2 separate regions of the Homo sapiens genome follow, and region 2 is linked to region 1. The links come from fine-mapping of genetic effects on gene expression. A gene starts in region 1. The other region holds a variant in brackets. All regions are shown on one strand. Distances are from middle to middle.

The links.
Region 2: its variant is fine-mapped to the expression of LINC02716 in visceral fat (GTEx, PIP above 0.99). The same link has a PIP of 0.9 or more in cerebral cortex.

Annotation. Positions count from the first base shown.
Region 1 is chr11:45,766,643-45,774,966 of GRCh38, reverse strand. It overlaps LINC02716 (long intergenic non-protein coding RNA 2716), which reads right to left and starts at 3,535. Exons shown (of 2, transcript NR_027134.1): 1 at 3,253-3,535; 2 at 2,609-2,974. RefSeq lists an enhancer at 3,342-3,843.
Region 2 is chr11:45,802,543-45,810,866 of GRCh38, reverse strand. SLC35C1 (solute carrier family 35 member C1) reads right to left here and starts at 5,718. Exons shown (of 2, transcript NM_018389.5): 1 at 4,531-5,718; 2 at 1-91. The coding sequence starts at 5,065. RefSeq lists enhancers at 3,440-3,499, 6,764-6,923 and silencers at 5,464-5,693, 6,424-6,593. The variant C/T (reference allele first, on the strand shown) is at 3,725.

The DNA.
Region 1 (8,324 bases):
GTCTGGTGGGAGACATGCATATGTAGAAACATGGGAACATGGCAGAAGAGGCAGGAATGGAGCTGGGGGCTTTGGACCTAGGGCAGGCATGGCTGAGCTAGGCCATTTCATTCTCTCCTCCTGAAGAATGGCCCCCTTCCTTCTGCTATTGTTCTGTGGAGTCCTTCTCTGGTGCTTGGGAGCCCAGCCAGCAGTAGCCTCAGTGACCCCAGGGACAGGCCCCCACAACAGCAGAGGAGAGAGAGAGGGACCGGGGTGTTGGCGGCGAGGCTGGTGTGGAGATAGGGAGATGAATGTCTTAGCTGGAGGAGCTGGAGAAGTCCAGGCTGCCCATTTTTCAGAGGGGAAAGCTGAGGCCCTCATAGAGCAAGGGATTGTCCAGGGAAAGGAACGTGAGTATCGAGGAAGAAAAACCTGGGGGGCAGGGGCCCAGAAGAGAAGGCAGATCCCTCTCCACCCCACCCCAGGCAGGAAGCCCAGGCTCCAACCACCGCCTTTGGGCCAGGCACCTCTGCTGTCCTCTGAAGGGGTGGGGAGGATGAGTGTGGCTTCTGGCCCACTGGACATGCTTGCAAGGCACATTTGCAGATTTGCTGCTGCAAGGGGAGGGGTGGGCTGGTGGGGAGGTGCCGGCCTGATGGGGCACCTGGAGGGTGGAGAGACCCCTAGGCTCCTGTTTACTCCCCCTCAAGTCTCAGAGGCAGCCCAGAGGCAGAAGGAGACTTGATGGACACTTGCGCAAAGTCAGGGCTGGACCGGGCAATTCCACATGCAGTTCTCCTGGCTGGTGAATTCTTGAATTAGTGGGAGGGCAGGTTCACTCTCCAAAGTTGGACCATAAATTCTCCGAGGGGCAGGATCGCCTCACCCGGACACTGGCCCTTATACATCCCAGGGTACCAGTAAATGTACGCCTCATCCAGTCGCTTTTCTAACTGCAACAAGAGCGAAGGAATATTTATTGGGCACTTACTCTGTTCTAGACACTATCACAGCAGGGACTGCTTTTCATTCTGGCACCAATTCTGGGAAGTAGATGGTATTATTATCCCCATTTGACAGAGGTGGAAACTGAGGCCCAGAAAGGTGAAGTGCCTTGCATAGAGACTTGCTCAAGGTCACATGCAAATGGAATCAGGACTGGAATCCAAGTGGGTTCAGAGCCTGCCCTGAATGCCCCACTTTTCCTCCTTCCTAGGGCCCGTGGCACTCTTTCTGGGGCCAAGCTCAGGCCAAGCTGAAGGAGCCATTCTGGAAGCAATTCTGGGCAGACGAAGGCCAAGAAGCCAATTCACAGCGGTTGTGCTGACGAGTTTCTTGGCAATGTGGAAAGTCTGACGATCTTACAAATGTGTGAAACTGAGACTCAATTTTCCCTCATCCTACCTCCCCTTTCTACCCACCCTCCAACATGGATCTAAATATGGATGCTATATTGGGGGAGTAGCCCCCCTCTCTAGACTGCAAGAGAAGATGACGTTGGGGAGGAGGTGGGGCCAGCCAAATTGGGCAAGAGCGGCCTCAGATGATGCTGCCTCCAAAAAGGTCCCTGTGTAAGTATGAGGTGGGTGGCTGAGATTTCTGAAATCCGTATCTGAGATGACTAGGTGGAGTCATACATTTCCACCCTTCTGGGGTTAAGGACACAGCCTTAACCATTTAGGGTGACCATTTAGGGTGAAGTCACTGTTTATGGGAGTCTAAACTGTGACTTTGGCAAGGTGCAATATAAAAATGCTAATACATGTTTATGCACTAAGCTGGAAATAATGCCAAGCCCCTCAGTTAAAAAAAAACCTGTCAAGAATTGCAGTTTCCTTGAGTCGGAGGAACTAAGTGAGCTGTTAAATGAGGACTGTAAACCTGCCACATGGCGACGTTGCTTTGGTTATTAAATAGAAATACCTGCTTTCTATATGCATGCACTGTTGTTTACATGCCTCTGAATTTCTAATTTCTGCAGGAGATTCTGGTGACTGGTGTGCCATTTTCTCAATGTTCACAGTTATTATAACTTTAAATATTTTACCCATATCCTGTAACAATGTCATCCAAGTGTTCTTTAAGTGGTGGTGCTGAAAAACGCACCTGAAAATCGATAACATTGGAAAGGAAGTGAGATGTGATAAAACGTTATGAAGAAGGCCAAACCACCGGCAGGAAATGCTGCACTGTTAATTTAGCAGAGAGTGCGTTATGAAATATTAGCGATAATGCCAGGGAAATAAAAAGCAGCATTAAGGCAAAAATATGCCACAATTGGAGTAATGTATGCAACCTATCCTTTCTACTTTGCATTCATTTCTCTGGCAAAATTAGTCAGAAATTATGCACGCTTTGAATTATGCAAGTTTTTCAGGACCACATGCTTTGCATAAAACTCTACTGCCCTGAGGTTCTCAGTGGGTGGAAGAATGAGTGACCATATTCTAGGGTTATCTTAGGCCAGGCCGTTGTACCCTCCTGTCCTAGGTGGGGATGAAGTGACCTCATGTGTAAAATGGGACCGTTGGACTGGCTTGTCTTTCTTTCCTTATTAGACTATGTCGAGACAGGCACCATTATATTTCTGCCCCAAAGGTGTCTTTTTCTGGACGGATCCCACAGCTGATACCAAACTTGTCTTTATTAACTGTGAGGCTGGCCATTCAAACACCAGGTGCCAGAGAGGGTCCCTCACTCATCGGAATCCGGGTGGGATGAATCCTCGGAGGCAAGGTCCCTCCACCTTCACCCTAGAGTCACACAGAGACTTGCCCTGGCGGCTGGTGACAGGTGGGCGGGAGAAGAAAAGGCCCCTGGGGAGCAGGAGAAAGCCAGGTGCCATGGGGACCCAGCGCCGCTGGAGGGCAGCACCAGCACACAGCTGAGGCCGCCTCTCCCGGAGCCCGGAGGGAGCTGGGTTCCGGTCGCCAGCGGTGCCCGGGTGAGCAGTTCACCCTCACGTCCCTGCTCTGACGAAGTTTCCATTCTTCTGGAGAAGACAAAATAAACGTGAACAAATGAACAAGTGTGCATTGTCAGGCAGCAAGTGTTGGTACAAACAAGATAGTGGTGGGGGTGGGGACACCGTTAAATAGGGGCCAGGGAGGCCTAACCCGGGAGGGGATAGCTGAGATGCCACTTGAGTGGAGAAAACAGTCCGAGATCTGAAGGTGTTCATGGAGAGGGGAAGGGGCCCCTAGAGGAGTCGGGAAAGCCTGGGTCAGGGAAGACGAGAAAACTGAGGAACAGAGAAGCCAGGTAACTTACCCAGGGTCATAGAGCCGGTGAGCTGGGGACAGCGCCTGTCAACGCCCCAGAGCCTTCCACGGCACTGGTTTCTCCGACCTTCCTCTCTAAACAGGACCGTGACAGTGACAGTTTCTGCCCCACTCCCCATTTCTGACCGCAGTCCCCATAAGGAAACAGGGCAGGGATCACTGGCTGTGAGCCCAGCAAGTCCCCTCCCGTGGCTTTCTCAGTTATTAAATGGAAGGGTGGGTCCCCCCATAACTCCGAAGCTCCCCTCTCTAAGCGTCCGCGGGCCGGGAACGCCTGAATTCTGGCTCCCGAGCACCTTCTTGTGGACAGTTTTGGAATCACACGCTCAGCGAGAAAGGGTCGTGGGAAAATGGTCTGTGCTAATTTCGGAGAGGCCAGTGGATTGGAAGGTTATCACTGAGGGTGGGTGCACGTGTGTGTGTGTGTGCGCGCACGTGCATGCGTGCATGCATCTGTGTGCCTGTGTGTGTTGGTCTGTGTGTGAATGTACCTCTGTGCGTATCTGTGTGTATGGTTGTGTGTGAGCACATACTGCCCGAGCCTGTGTGTGTGTGAGTGTGTGTGTGCACTAATGTTTGTTTATATGGGCACAGGCACACACATGTCCATGTCCATGTGTGTGTACCTGCATCTGTATTTTTTCGTCTGGTGTATGGGCTTGTTTTTGTGTGCCTGCATGCATGTGCCCATGTGCGTGTGTGTTTTGGGAACTGGGACACAGAGGATGATATGAGAAGTCCCCAGTCTTTCTCACAAAGGCCTAACCACTCTCCCTGAAGCCAGCTTTCTCCCCTACTTGCTTCTGTCTGCACCATCACCTGAGTTCTCCCACCTGAACTTTTCACCGACATTTTTGATGATTTTTCTGTTTTGTGTCCGTTGAGGCTCATTTGAATGTTACAGATCATAGCTCAAGAAATGATTCTCAGGCCGGGCATGGTGGCTCATGCCTGTAATCCCAGCACTTTGGGAGGCTGAGGCAGGTGGATCGTCTGAGGTCAAGAGTTCAAGACCAGCCTGGCTAACATGGTGAAACCCCGTTTCTACTAATAATAACAAATTAGCCAGGTGTGGTGGCGTGTGCCTGTAATCCCAGCTACTCGGGGGGCTGAGGCAGGAGAATCACTGGAACCGGTGAGGCAGAGGTTGCAGTGAGCTGAGATCCCTGGGTGACACAGCGAGACTCCGTCTAAAAAAAAAGAAAGAAAGAAGTGATTCTCCTCTAGTCTACTCACCCAAATCATGAGTTTCACTTCTCAGGTGGGCTGATCACCCACTGTCCTGTTGAGACCTGGGGACTTGTACAAAGTCGTACCCTGGAGGGTTGAGCAGAAAACCAGGCACATAGTAACTAAGACAATGGCGCGTTAGCAAAGCACTCCACACATCCCGTTCACATGTGTGTCTTACTTGACTCACAAACTGATCTTTCATCCTTTTTTTTTTCCTTTTTTGTGGTGAACAGGGTCTTGCTATATTGCCCAGGCAGGTCTCAAACTACCGGCTGATCTTTCAAGCCTAGGCAAGGTGAGGCTAATTATTCCCATTTTACAGATGAAGACACTGAGGCTCAGAGAGGGAAATAATGAAAATAGTACTGCAGGAACCATCTAACCAATATGCAAACTCTCTCATCCAGTTTTCATAACATCATCAATTCCCTTCTTTAAAAGACAAGGAGATGGAGGCTTTAAAAATGTAAGGCGAGTGCTTAATGCCATATAGCCAATCAGTAGTTGAGGCAGGATTTGAATCTCGCTCCAGAGATTAAAGCCCAAGTCCTAAACACAATGGCAGGCGTGAGGGCCCTGGGCACACACTGACTCAAGCTCTTTCAGCCACACACTGTCCCTTTGCCATGCCTCTGGGGTCCTAAGAACATCCTCCTCTGAGCCCACAGGGAGGTCATTCCCCATCCTGGGTGCCCCTGCTCCTCTCCCAGATGCGGGGCAGGTGAATCTTGTAACCTGTGTCACTCTCAGAGGCTGAGATGGGGACTGAGCATTAATTATGCAATAACCTCGCTGTGGTGTGCCTAATTGTCTGATAACCATAATTGAATCTTATGGATTACACCAACATTATTGCAGGGAGCAGCTTAAGGCAGTTAACAGAAGCTGCACTCACTTTGTGATATCTTCCTCCTGTCTCCTTGCTGGCTGGGCTGTGAGTCCTTTCCTGGGGGCTGAGGGAGGCCTCGAGGTGCAGGGGGCAGGCAGGAGGTGAGTGACAGCACAAATGTCGCATCACCTTATCCCCCCGAGGGCACCATCTTCCTGGCTGAGAAAAGTCTGTGTGGCAGGTGGAATTATCATTTTGTAAATGAGAATGTGGCATCAGAAGGCTGAGAGACTCTCCCAATTTCAGTCTTGCTCATTGCTACTGGTCCTTGCTAGCATCATCTGGGACTGTTTAGACGTGCAGCATCTCAGCTGGGCTCGGTGGCTCACGCTTGTAATCCCAGCACTTTGGGAGGCCAAGGCGTGTGGATCATGAGATCAGGAGTTTGAGACCAGCCTGACCAACATGGTGAAACCCCGTCTCTAAAAATTAGCTGGGCATGGTGGTGCGTGCCTGTAATCCCAGCTACTCAGGAGGCTGAGGTAGGAGAATTGCTGAACCTGGGAGGCGGAGGTTGCACTGAGCCGAGATCACGCCACTGTACTCCAGCCTGCGTGACAGAGCAAGACTCCGTCTCAAAAAAAAAAAAAAAAAAAAAGAAATGCAGCATCTCAGGCCCCACCCTGGACCTACTGAATCAGAAGCTGCATTATTTTTTATTAAATGAATTTTTTTTCTTTAAAGAGATGAGATTTTGCTCTGTCTTCCAGGCTGGAGTGCAGTGGTGCGATTGTGGCTTGCTGCAGCCTCGAACTCCTGGGCTTGAGAGATCCTCCAGCCTCAGCCTCCCTAGTAGCTGGGACTACAGTCGGAGCCACCATGCCTGGCTCTCAGAATCTGCATTGTAATAGCATCTCAGGTGATTTATTTTCACGTTGCCGTTTGCTGAGTGCTGGTTTATGTAATTATTTATTCATTGCCTATGTGGGATCCATTGCCCTTTCTTGTGTCAGCAACACCTTGACTTCCATTTGGGAAATAACCCTTCTTCCCATATGGGAGACCCCTAGCTGTACCCTTACTCCTACCTCCCTCAGGCATTGACCCCAGGCCAGGCCAATGAGTCAGTTCCAAGATCTTTGAGGCACTGTTGAGGAAGACGTGTTTGATGGAGTTTTGCTGAGGCTTCTTCATTCCCTCCCTCCCTTGCATGGTTCACTGTGGGTGAATATTCTTCCCCACACCATCCATGGTGAGCTCAGCCACTGACTTGCTTTGGTCAATGGAATGTCGGTAGAAGTGATGATGTGTGGGTTCCAAGCTAGGCCTTAAAGAAGTATCTTGTGTTTCCGCTTGCCCCTCTAGAGCTCCTGCCCACCATGAGAAAGGAAGGTACACCCAGGCGACCATGGCACCTTCATCTGGAGTCCAGGATGGAGACTGTGGGGCAAATTGAACCTAACCAGAGACTGGAGTCCAGCCTAACTCTGATATTAACAACCCCCCAACTAACCTGCAGACCCATGAGTATGAAAGGAATGGTTGTTATAAGCAACTGAGATTTTCAGAGTGCTTGTTGCATGGCATTGGTGCAGCAGACACCTGACTGGTATAAAAGACATACTTTCTTTCCAGGGGGATTGCTAAGCTGAATTTGGATTTTAGGTGTTATCTTGTCACTAGGAAAGCAGGGCCTGCCTAAGGGCAAAACCAACCCAGAGGGAAATGGAGCTGAGATAGGATGAGAGCCCTGATCATGATGACAGCCTTTGTTTTCATGGATCCAGCCTCACAGGAGTTAGTCAACTCTTTCAGTCTCAAGGAGTAGAGAGCTGAAACTTCGCTGGCTTAAACCCAAGAAGGAATTAGCGGCTCACATAGCTCAGAAGTCTGGAGGTGATGTGGGTTTCAGGTGAGGCTTGAATCAGTAGCCCCTGGACCAGTGTCCTTGTCTCTCCACTCTGGGTCCCATTTTGCTGGTTTCATCTGGAGGCTGGCTCCCCTTTGTGATATCGTAAAATACATATTGAGTTGTTGTCCACATTTCCTGGCATGTTACTCCTAAAATCTATGGAATCTCCAAAGTGGTAAGTGTCTTTTTGTATGCTAATGAGTTGACAGTTGGCTGGCAGCCCCTAGGTAGCTTGAGGATGGGGGCTACTCCAGAAAGTTCAAGGCAGGATTAGAGGACTGGGGCTTTCAGCCCCACTCCCATTCTCTCTTAGAGGGGAGAGGGGCTGGAAGTTACGTTGATCACCAATGGCCGATGGCTTAATCAATCACGCCTGTGTAATGAAGCCTCCATAAAAACCCTGAAGGACAGGGTCTGGAGAGCTTCTGGACAGCTGGACACACGGGGCTCCTGGAGGATGGCGCTCTGCTCCCCCATACCTTGCCCTATGCATTGCCCATCTGTGTCCTCTGTGGTATCCTTTATAATAAGTGAGTCAACGTGTTTCCCTGAGTTCTGTGAGCTGCTCTAGCAAATTAATCCAACCAATGAGGGGATTGTGGGAACCTCAATTATAGTCAGTTGGTCAGAAGCACAGCTAAAATACTCTGGGACTTGTGATTGGCATCGGGAGAAGGGGAGCATCTTGGGGACTGAGTCCTTAGCCTGTGGAACCTGACGCTATCTCCAGGTGGGGAAGTGAACTGAATTAGAGGACACCGAACTGGTGTCTGCTGCGTAATTGATTGCTTGCTTACTATGTGGGAACGCCTCCCCAAACACCCATCTGGTGTAAGAAGCCCACTGTGAGTGTATAGTGGGAGAAACAGTCTGCTTATCCATGTATTCTCAGACCCTCATTGGAGCACGATGGCGTCCTTGTTCGGGTCTAACAGGAGAGAGAGTGTTTGTTCTGGAAGCGAGGAAGCTTCTTTCTCAGGAGCTGGCAGCAAATGTCTCAGGTCTCATGGCCTCAGGTCAGGTCACATACCGTCCCTGCACCAATCTCAGAGGCTGGAGACAGAATGTGCTGATGGGCCAAGGCTGG
Region 2 (8,324 bases), 36 kb before region 1:
ACACAGAGGCTAGCCAGCACGCCGAAGACGGTGCCCAGCCACGACAGGGTGCCTTCTGCCCCCTCCTGGTCCACACCAAGCCAGAAGCCCCCTGCAGTGGGGAGAGGAGGAGTGGGGAAGGGTGAGGAAGAGGGATGAGGACGAGGAGGAAGAAGGACAGAGGATCAGACACCAAATTTCACAGACTGAGTATTGCGGCCCTCCCCGTTCCTCCCCAGGCCTCCCTCCAATAAGCACAGCCAGAGTCTCCACTGCAGGCAAAGCACTCCACATGAACTATGGGAGCCGCCCAGGGCAAGAAAACCTCCTCTGGCAGCTTATCTGCTAGCAGAGGAGAAAGACATTAAAACAAATCTTCCCAGTTACTTCTTTAATTACAATTGTAAGAATTGTAATGAGGTCCATAAAGTAGTACAAGGTGCTGTGAGAGCCTGTAAGTGGGCGACTGTGCTGGCCTGGGGCATCTGAAAATAACAGTTGAACTGAGTTCTGAAGAATGAGTGCCACTTAGTGGTTAATGTGATTTAAGGTGACCCTGCGTAAATGACTTCCAGTGTCTAAGCCTTGGCTGCTTCTTGCATGGAATGGGAGCCTATGATGTCATCATGGGGCACATTAAGTTAGAATCTCTTGTGTCATTTGGGGCAGTGACTCTGAGACTCTCATCTTGTGTCACTTCCTGCTCAAAGAGCTTCCGTGGCTCCCCACTTCTGCCATGAGGACTACACTCCTTGGCGTGGCAGGCGGGGGTGCAGGCCCTTCCTCTGTCCTATGGTCGCCCCAGCTTCCCTGCTCGTCTCCCTGCTTCTCACCCTGGGCCTCAGTGTCCTTGTTCATGTCCTGTGCCAGAAACACCCTCCTCCTTTCTGGGGGATTCTACTCATCTGTCAAGGTCAAAGTTGGCTTCTCCTGGGGAATCCTTTCCTGATAATCCCAGAACCTGGACTCTTACTGCCTCGCTTTCCTGCAAAGCCCCTTGCCTGCTCTGGGCTGCTGGGCCCCTGCCCATGGTGACAGTCTGGTCTTTTTAGCCAGATCCCATGCTCCCAGAAGCCAGGGGCTGAACAATGCATGTTATACTTCCTGCCACAGCATCTGGCAACACGGGGCAGTGGGGAAAGTTTTGGGGTCAGAGGGATTTAGCCTCCAATCAGGCTCTGCAATTTAGAAGCTGAGTGGCCTGGGAGAAGTTACTTAACCACTCTGAGCTCTCTGGGTCACCTCCCTGTCCTCCACTCCAGCCAATCTACTCTCCACCTTGCAACTGATATGATCATCCTGAAGTCCAGATCGGTCCAGGCTGTGCCCTGGTGTGAAGCCTCTCTGTGGCTCTCCACTGCCTTCAGGAGAAATTCCACTCACTCACCACAGCTCTTAGGACCTGCACCACGTGGAGTCGGCCTGACTGGGCAGCCTTGTGTCTGGTGAGTCTTGCTGTGGCCCAGCCATGAAGAAGTGCACGTGCTCTTCCTTCTATCTAGAATGTTCTGTCCCTACTTCTTCCTCTAAACCCAGTTTCTAAACTTCCTCCAGAAGGCCTGCTTAGACTGCCCTGTCCCCGGGTCCCCTCCCTTGCCCAGAGCTCCCACAGCCCCTTTTATGCATGCCCCATCACAGCCCTTACTATGCTAGCGTAACTGTCACCACCATGCCCTCCAGGAGTGTAGGAGCTGAGGTTACCTTTTCCAAACTTGTATCCCCAAAGCCTGGCATGGTGCCTGGCATGTGTTTAGCCACCAATTACTAGTCGTGGAATGAATGAATGAAAGTTGTTATGGAGGTGGTTGTATTAAAGGAGACAGGATACTTCCTACATCATAGGCACTCAACACACAGCACTCTTCTCTTTTTCTCTTTGTTTTTTGAGACGGAGTCTCGCTGTGTCACCCTGGCTGGAGTACAGTGGTGCGATCTTGGCTCACTGCAACCTTCGCCTCCTGGGTTCAAGCGATTCTCGTGCCTCAGCCTCTTGAGTAGCTGGGATTACAGGGATGCGCCACCATGCCTGGCTAATTTTTGTATTTTCAGTAGAGAGGGGGCTTCACCATGTTGGCCAAGCTGGTCTTGAACTCTTGACCTCAGGTGATCTGCCCGCCTCAGCCTCCCCAAGTGCTGGGATTACAGGCATGAGCCACCATGCCCAGCCCAACCACAGAGCCCGACCCTCCTCTTTCTTGACAGAACCTTTGCACAAGGGGTACCCACAGACCTGCTGGGGGTAGGGTGAGGGGGGCAGAGGGCTGCACCACCCACTCACCTGCTTGGCTACAGCACCCCTAGCCCTCCTGGTGGTTACCTTCTGAGTCCAGAAGCAACTGCAACATCAATGTTCTAGAGCGACTCTTGCCCAGAAAGAACTTTTTTTTGAGACTGTGTCTTGCTCTGTCGCCCAGGCTGGAATGCAGTGGCGCGATCTTGGCTCAATGCAACTTCTGCCTCCCGGGTTCAAGCAATTATCCTGCCTCAGCCTCCCGAGTAGCTGGGATTACAGGCACATGCCACCACGCCCGGCTAATTTTTTGTATTTTTAGTAGAGACAGGGTTTCACCATGTTGGCCAGGCTGGTCTCGAACTACTGATCTCAGGTGATCCACCTGCCTCAGCCTCCCAAAGTGCTGGGATTACAGGCATGAGCCACTGTGCCTGGCCCAGAAGGAGCTTTGAAAGTTACTGTGTGACATGGGGGGCTAGGAGGGGAGGCCTAGAATAGTTGCCTGAGACTCGTCTTCCCCTACAAGGAGGAAGAAAGAGGAAACATTGCAGATAGGGAGCCAGGTCCTGGGCTGGCAGAGAGCGTCCACCTCCCTGGCCCCTGTCCCAGTCAGGCACGCCCGTGAATGCACCATTCTCAGAACCTCACCACTGGTTACTTGGATTACCTTTGGGATTTGGGCCCAGTTACCCTAGTGTCTTCACCTTCCTGCAAGCAAATTCTCCAACTAGGAGCCTCTACCCCTGAGGCCACTCCTGGCAGGGTCAGCAGGAATGAAGTAGAGAGCCCTGGGGCATCTGAGGAGGACAGGGAGGAGGGGAGGTACACCTGTTCCCTGGAGAGGGAAATGGAAGCAGGCTGGGAGAGTTCTGGCAGGGGGGGTCTTGCAGCTTCCCCTACTCTAACTGTGACCTTCTCCCTTCTCCCCTCTTGGACTTAGACCCAGCAGCCCTAGATCCAGCAGCTGCTCAACAAGGGGAAACATTTTCTAGGACAGGTGGCATGGGATGGGTCCCTTCCCCCACCAACCGGTGCATCTAGCCTGGGACCCTGAGCCATCAGCAAAGAATATGATATGTAGGCCAAATAAGATAAACTTTATAGCACCAGGAAAAACCAGCATAGGTTCAAATGAAGACCCCATTCCTAGATGACGCAGCCCTGGGAAGACTCGGAGGGAATGGGATGCTGGAGGCTCTCTAACGCAGCATGGGGCCCAGTAAAATATGGGCCCATCTAACCTGTGCTGTCCCATACCATAGCCCTCAGCCACATTTGGCTACTGAGCCCTTGAAATGTGGCTAGAAAATCAGGTTGTAACATCTGCAAATGAGGAAGTGAATGTTTAACATTTTGCTTAATTTTAACTAATTTAAATAAGTGGCCAATGGCTACTGCATTGAATACTGCAGTTCTAACCTCCAAGACGAGCAGAGGGGATAGAAGCACAGGCCTGGGAGTCTGGCCAATCTGGGTTTGCATCCCAGCCTGGCTGCTTGCTAGCTGTGTGGC[C/T]GTGGGCAAGTAATGTAACATCTCTGAGCCTCAGTTTCCTTGTTTGTATAGAGATGACCGCTGGTAGTGATGCCACAACCCAGGGGATCTCTGGGAGAACAAAGGAGATGCTATATGTGAAATAATTAGCATAATTTCCCCATCAATAATTATTATTTTCTGAGGGTCAAGTCCAGGAAGACAGCTGAGGCCTCTCAAAGCATATTGCTTGCTACTGTCTCAGGCGCTATCCTGAGCTGGCAGAGAGTGATGGTATATTTATTAAAAGACGTATTGTCCTCTACTAAGAGCACTGGCTGGGAAATCAGGACACCTGAGCTCTTGAGAAACAATAAAGTACAGTGGTCGGGCATGTGAACTGTGAAGCCAGATTGCTTGAGTTCAGATCCCAGCTCTGCCACTTATTAGCTGGGTGATCTTGGACAAGTTAGTTAACTTCTCTGTGCCTTGGTTTTTCCCTCTGTAAAATGTGGATTATAATCCCATCTTGTTATGAAGATTAGCTGAGTTAATATGGCTAAGATCCATGTGCCTGGCACATTTTAATCACTCAACAAATGTCAGTTGCTTTTGCTGCTGTTGTTACTATTATTATTACTATTGTTCTTGCCCCGGCTGGGCTCCTAACTTGCTGGGTGACCTTTAGTAAGTTACTTGCTCTCTCTGTGCCCCCAGGCTCTTTCTCCTATGACTGCTGCACCAAAGGAGCTGGGACAGATGAAGTCCTAGGATGCCTAGAAGAGTTGTTCTTCACTGCTTCAGTCCCCATGACCACTCTATCCCCCGTGGCCCCAGCTGCCACTCACCGATGATGATACCGCAGGTGAGCAGGGCATAGAAGGAGGTGGTCTGCTTGAGCAGCAGGTAGGAGAGCAGCACGTTGAAGACGGTGGTGAGTGAGCGGCCCACATTGTAGAAGGCCACACCGACGTACTTGAGGCAGAGGTTATTGAAGGTGATCATGCCGATGAAGACCACCGACAGGGGCAGGACGCTGCGGGCCACCCTGAGGTCCAGGCGCAAGCTGGGGAAGTCCACGGCACCAGGGCAGCAGGCGGCCAGAGCGCTGAGGCCTTTGCACAGCAGCGTGGTCACCAGGCACTGGTAGAAGGTGACGAAGATGGGGGTGTCCAGCCGCAGGGAGGGGCTGTCCAGCAGGTACTTATTAAGGAACACCATGGAGATGGAGGTGACCCAGTAGAGGGAGACCACCAGCGCGATCTGCAATGCCCGCAGCAGAAAGGGCTTCTCCCCGTTGGCCTCTGCCTCTGCAGAGGGGTCTGAGGCCCCGGTCAGCGCCATGTGCAGGATCCTGGACCGCTTCAGAGGGGCCCTATTCATGGTAGCAGAGGAGCTGGGTCACCCCGCGGCCAGAACTCTGATTCCCTGGAGTCCAGGGCAGTGAGCTCACTTGTGCTCTCCGCAAGGAAGCCGCAGCCCTCCATTGTCACATGTGGGCTGGCCTAAAGGCCTCCCCATTGTCCTCATGGATTGAGAAGTTCTGCTTTGGGGTGAGCCCAGTTGTGCTGCTCCACAACCTACTCCCACCCCGAGGGGGCTCTGAGACAAGACACAGGGCAAGGGAGAGGAATAGGATAAGGCGGTGAGGCCAGGACAGAGAAGACCTGTGAGGGGAGAAGAGGCTGGGGCCTAACAGGGAGGGGTCGCAGAGAGAAGGGAGGGGAGAGGAATGGCAGGGCGGGGCAGGAGTAGGTACGCGGGGCGAAGGTGCAGGAAAAGGACGCGTGGCAGAGTGGGAAGAGGTGCCGAGAGGGCGTCATGGGCGGCTGTGGGAGGGAGGGGCGGGCAGGGGGAGGGAGGCGTACAGGGAGCTGCCGGAGGCCGGGCGCGGCTGGAGGGAGGGCTGCGGAAGGGTCAGAGGGGCTCGGGGCTTGGGGCTGAAGGACGCGGGAGGGGGCTGGGCCGGCGCCCACGTCTCGCTGCCTTCCCGGGCTCTGTCGCCGGCTCAGCCCAGGAGCCTCCGGACATCCGAGGCCGACTCCCCGGGAGGCGGGCCCTGGACTCACTTCCTGACACGCCCCCACGTGGCCTTAAAGGGCCCGCACGCCCCGCCTTGCCCTTAAAGCGACAGCCCCAGAGAGGCGGAGTTCGCCAGTCCCCAGCCCCGCCCCTGCGCTCCGCTGCCCGCTGCTGGCGGGGGACCTCGGCAGCCACAGGTTTTTCTGGGTGCTTGAGCCTCGCCCTGCTTCCTGGAAGGGCTCCATCAACCTCGCCTGCCCACCCTCAGCTCCGTCCGCCCCGGAGCCTCCGTCCCCCGACTTGGCTAGGCTTGGCTCGCAGGTCCACTTCCCGGAACCCCGACCCAGGACCCGGGCGGCGCTACATCAGCCTGGACCCCTCCACCTCCGGAGACTCGCGTTGCAGCCCCGCGTCCCTCTGCCAATCCGAGCTCACTCTTCCATAACAATGTTGTGGTCCCCTCCTTTCCCCCCATTTTCACCGCCCCCAGGCCCTCTCCCAAGCCCGAGACCCCCGGCAGCGCTCCCCGAGGCCGGAGGCCACGCCGCCTCTCTCGGACTTCAGTTTGTCCTCCCTGTGCTCCTGTCGAGGTCCTCTGGGCGGCCCGGATCCGAGATTCCAAAGGCTCAAGACAGCATCTCTTACCCCTTCCAGAAAATACTGTTTCCCCGGCCGGTCCAGCCGCATCAGCTCCCGCGTCCCTGCCTGTGTCCCCGGGCCGCGAAGGCGACCTGGCGCTCACCTCCTCCGGTGCACTGGGCGCCCGCCCCGCGACCCCGTGCTGCATCTGCAGCGCCGCACCCTGGGCCGCGCCCGCGGGATCGACTTCCTGCTTTCCGCCCCGGGCCCGGGCACCTTGCCAGCCTCGCCGGCCTGTTCGCGGCATGGGCCCCGGGGGTGCCGGCGGAGAGGCGGTGATCCGGACGGTCGTGGGAGGAGGCCCTCTCCTCTTTCCAAGGCTACTCCTGTCCCTGGTACCCCCGCCCGCCCGGGACCCGGCTTCAGTTACCGCAGCTGGCACGTCCCGGGACTTGGCTGTATCCCTGGCCCGCCGCGCTACCGGCTTGCACTTCCAGAAGTGCGTGCGGGGACCGCTCGGATTCTTCCAGCTGGCAGTGAGGGGGAGGGTTCCCCGCCCCTTCCAGGGCCGGGGCCTGGGAAGTCTAGCCTGTGGTCTGCCACTCACCAGGCAGCCGGGGAGACCAGGAGGATCGACTTCTCTTGGTTCGCGCTCTAGCACCTGCGTTGGGCAGGCCACTTTCTCCGACGGCCTGAGTTATCTTCATGGTAAAACTAAGGGGCTAGGCTTGACCTGTGGGTCCCAACCTTCTTGCCCAGAACTCTAGGTGGTATGGTCGAACATAGATGTTTGTAATATTTCAAGCACCATTTAATTAGTGCCATTTAATTAACGGGTAAGATGATGTCATGGCTGGGATTTGTTTTAAAATACTAAGAATACTTACCAAAAATATTTTTTATTTTTATTTATTTATTCTTTTTGGGACGGAGTCTCGCTCCGTCGCCCAGGCTGGAGTGCAGTGGTGCTATTTCAGCTCACTGCAACCTCCGTCTCCCGGGTTCAAGCGATTCTCCTGCCTCAGCCTCCCGAATAGCTGGAATTACAGGCGTCCACCACCACGCCCGGTTATTTTTTGTATTTTTAGTAGAGACCGGGTTTCGCCGTGTTGGCCAGGCTGTTCTCTAACTCCTGACCTCAGGTGATCCGCCGGCCTCGGCCTCCCAAAGTGCTGGGATTACAAGCGTGAGCCACCGTGCCTGACCTCAAAAAGATTTTTTTTAAAAGGTTGATAGATTAAATAAGATAAGCCATTGATAGTTGTAGCTAGGCGTAGATACACAAGGACCCATTATAAGAGTTTCCTTACTTTTGTGTACATTTGCAAATTTCCAGAATAAAAAGGTAAAACCTATATAGTACGCTTAAACTCTCAGATCCTAACTGCACAAACCTTCACTGGAGCTGAGCGCAGCCCTGGGTGGGCTGTAGGGAAATGGGAGGGCTGCAGGCTGCAGTGAAGTAAACAGCTGCCCCACAACGAGCCGGGCCCACACCCTACCCTCTTCCACTAGCCCCGGGTACTAGCACTCCCCTCTTCCTCCTCAAGGAATGAGACTCTGCTTCCTAGTTGTGGGCTGTTCTCCACCTGGAGGATACCATCTGGTTACCTTGTCACTTTTGGAACTAAAATATCCCTTTGGGGAAAGAAAGACTCAAGAGGGACTGAGCTGGTCTCCTCAACCCCACCTGGAGAGTCTACCTCTGGGATTTTCCTTTGAAGCTGTGGGTTTTGGTTCATTAAGAGCAATTCGTATCTGTTCCAGTCTCTCCTCTCTTATGCCCGAGAGTTCACCATGACAAACAATTTAGTGACAGACAGGGCAAACTTGTCCCTGAGAGGCCCTGGTGATCTGGAAGGGCCTTCTCCTTAGCACATTAGCAGGAACTTGTCTGATGACTGCTGCCACCTTGAACTGGAGGGAAGAGATATATCTTGTATATAGGCCAGATGCACTTCGCTGAGAGAGGCCCAGGGGCAGTCAGTGCTGCGTGTGTGGGGGACAGTGTGGGCTCTCTATGGAGGCCAAAGTATACCCC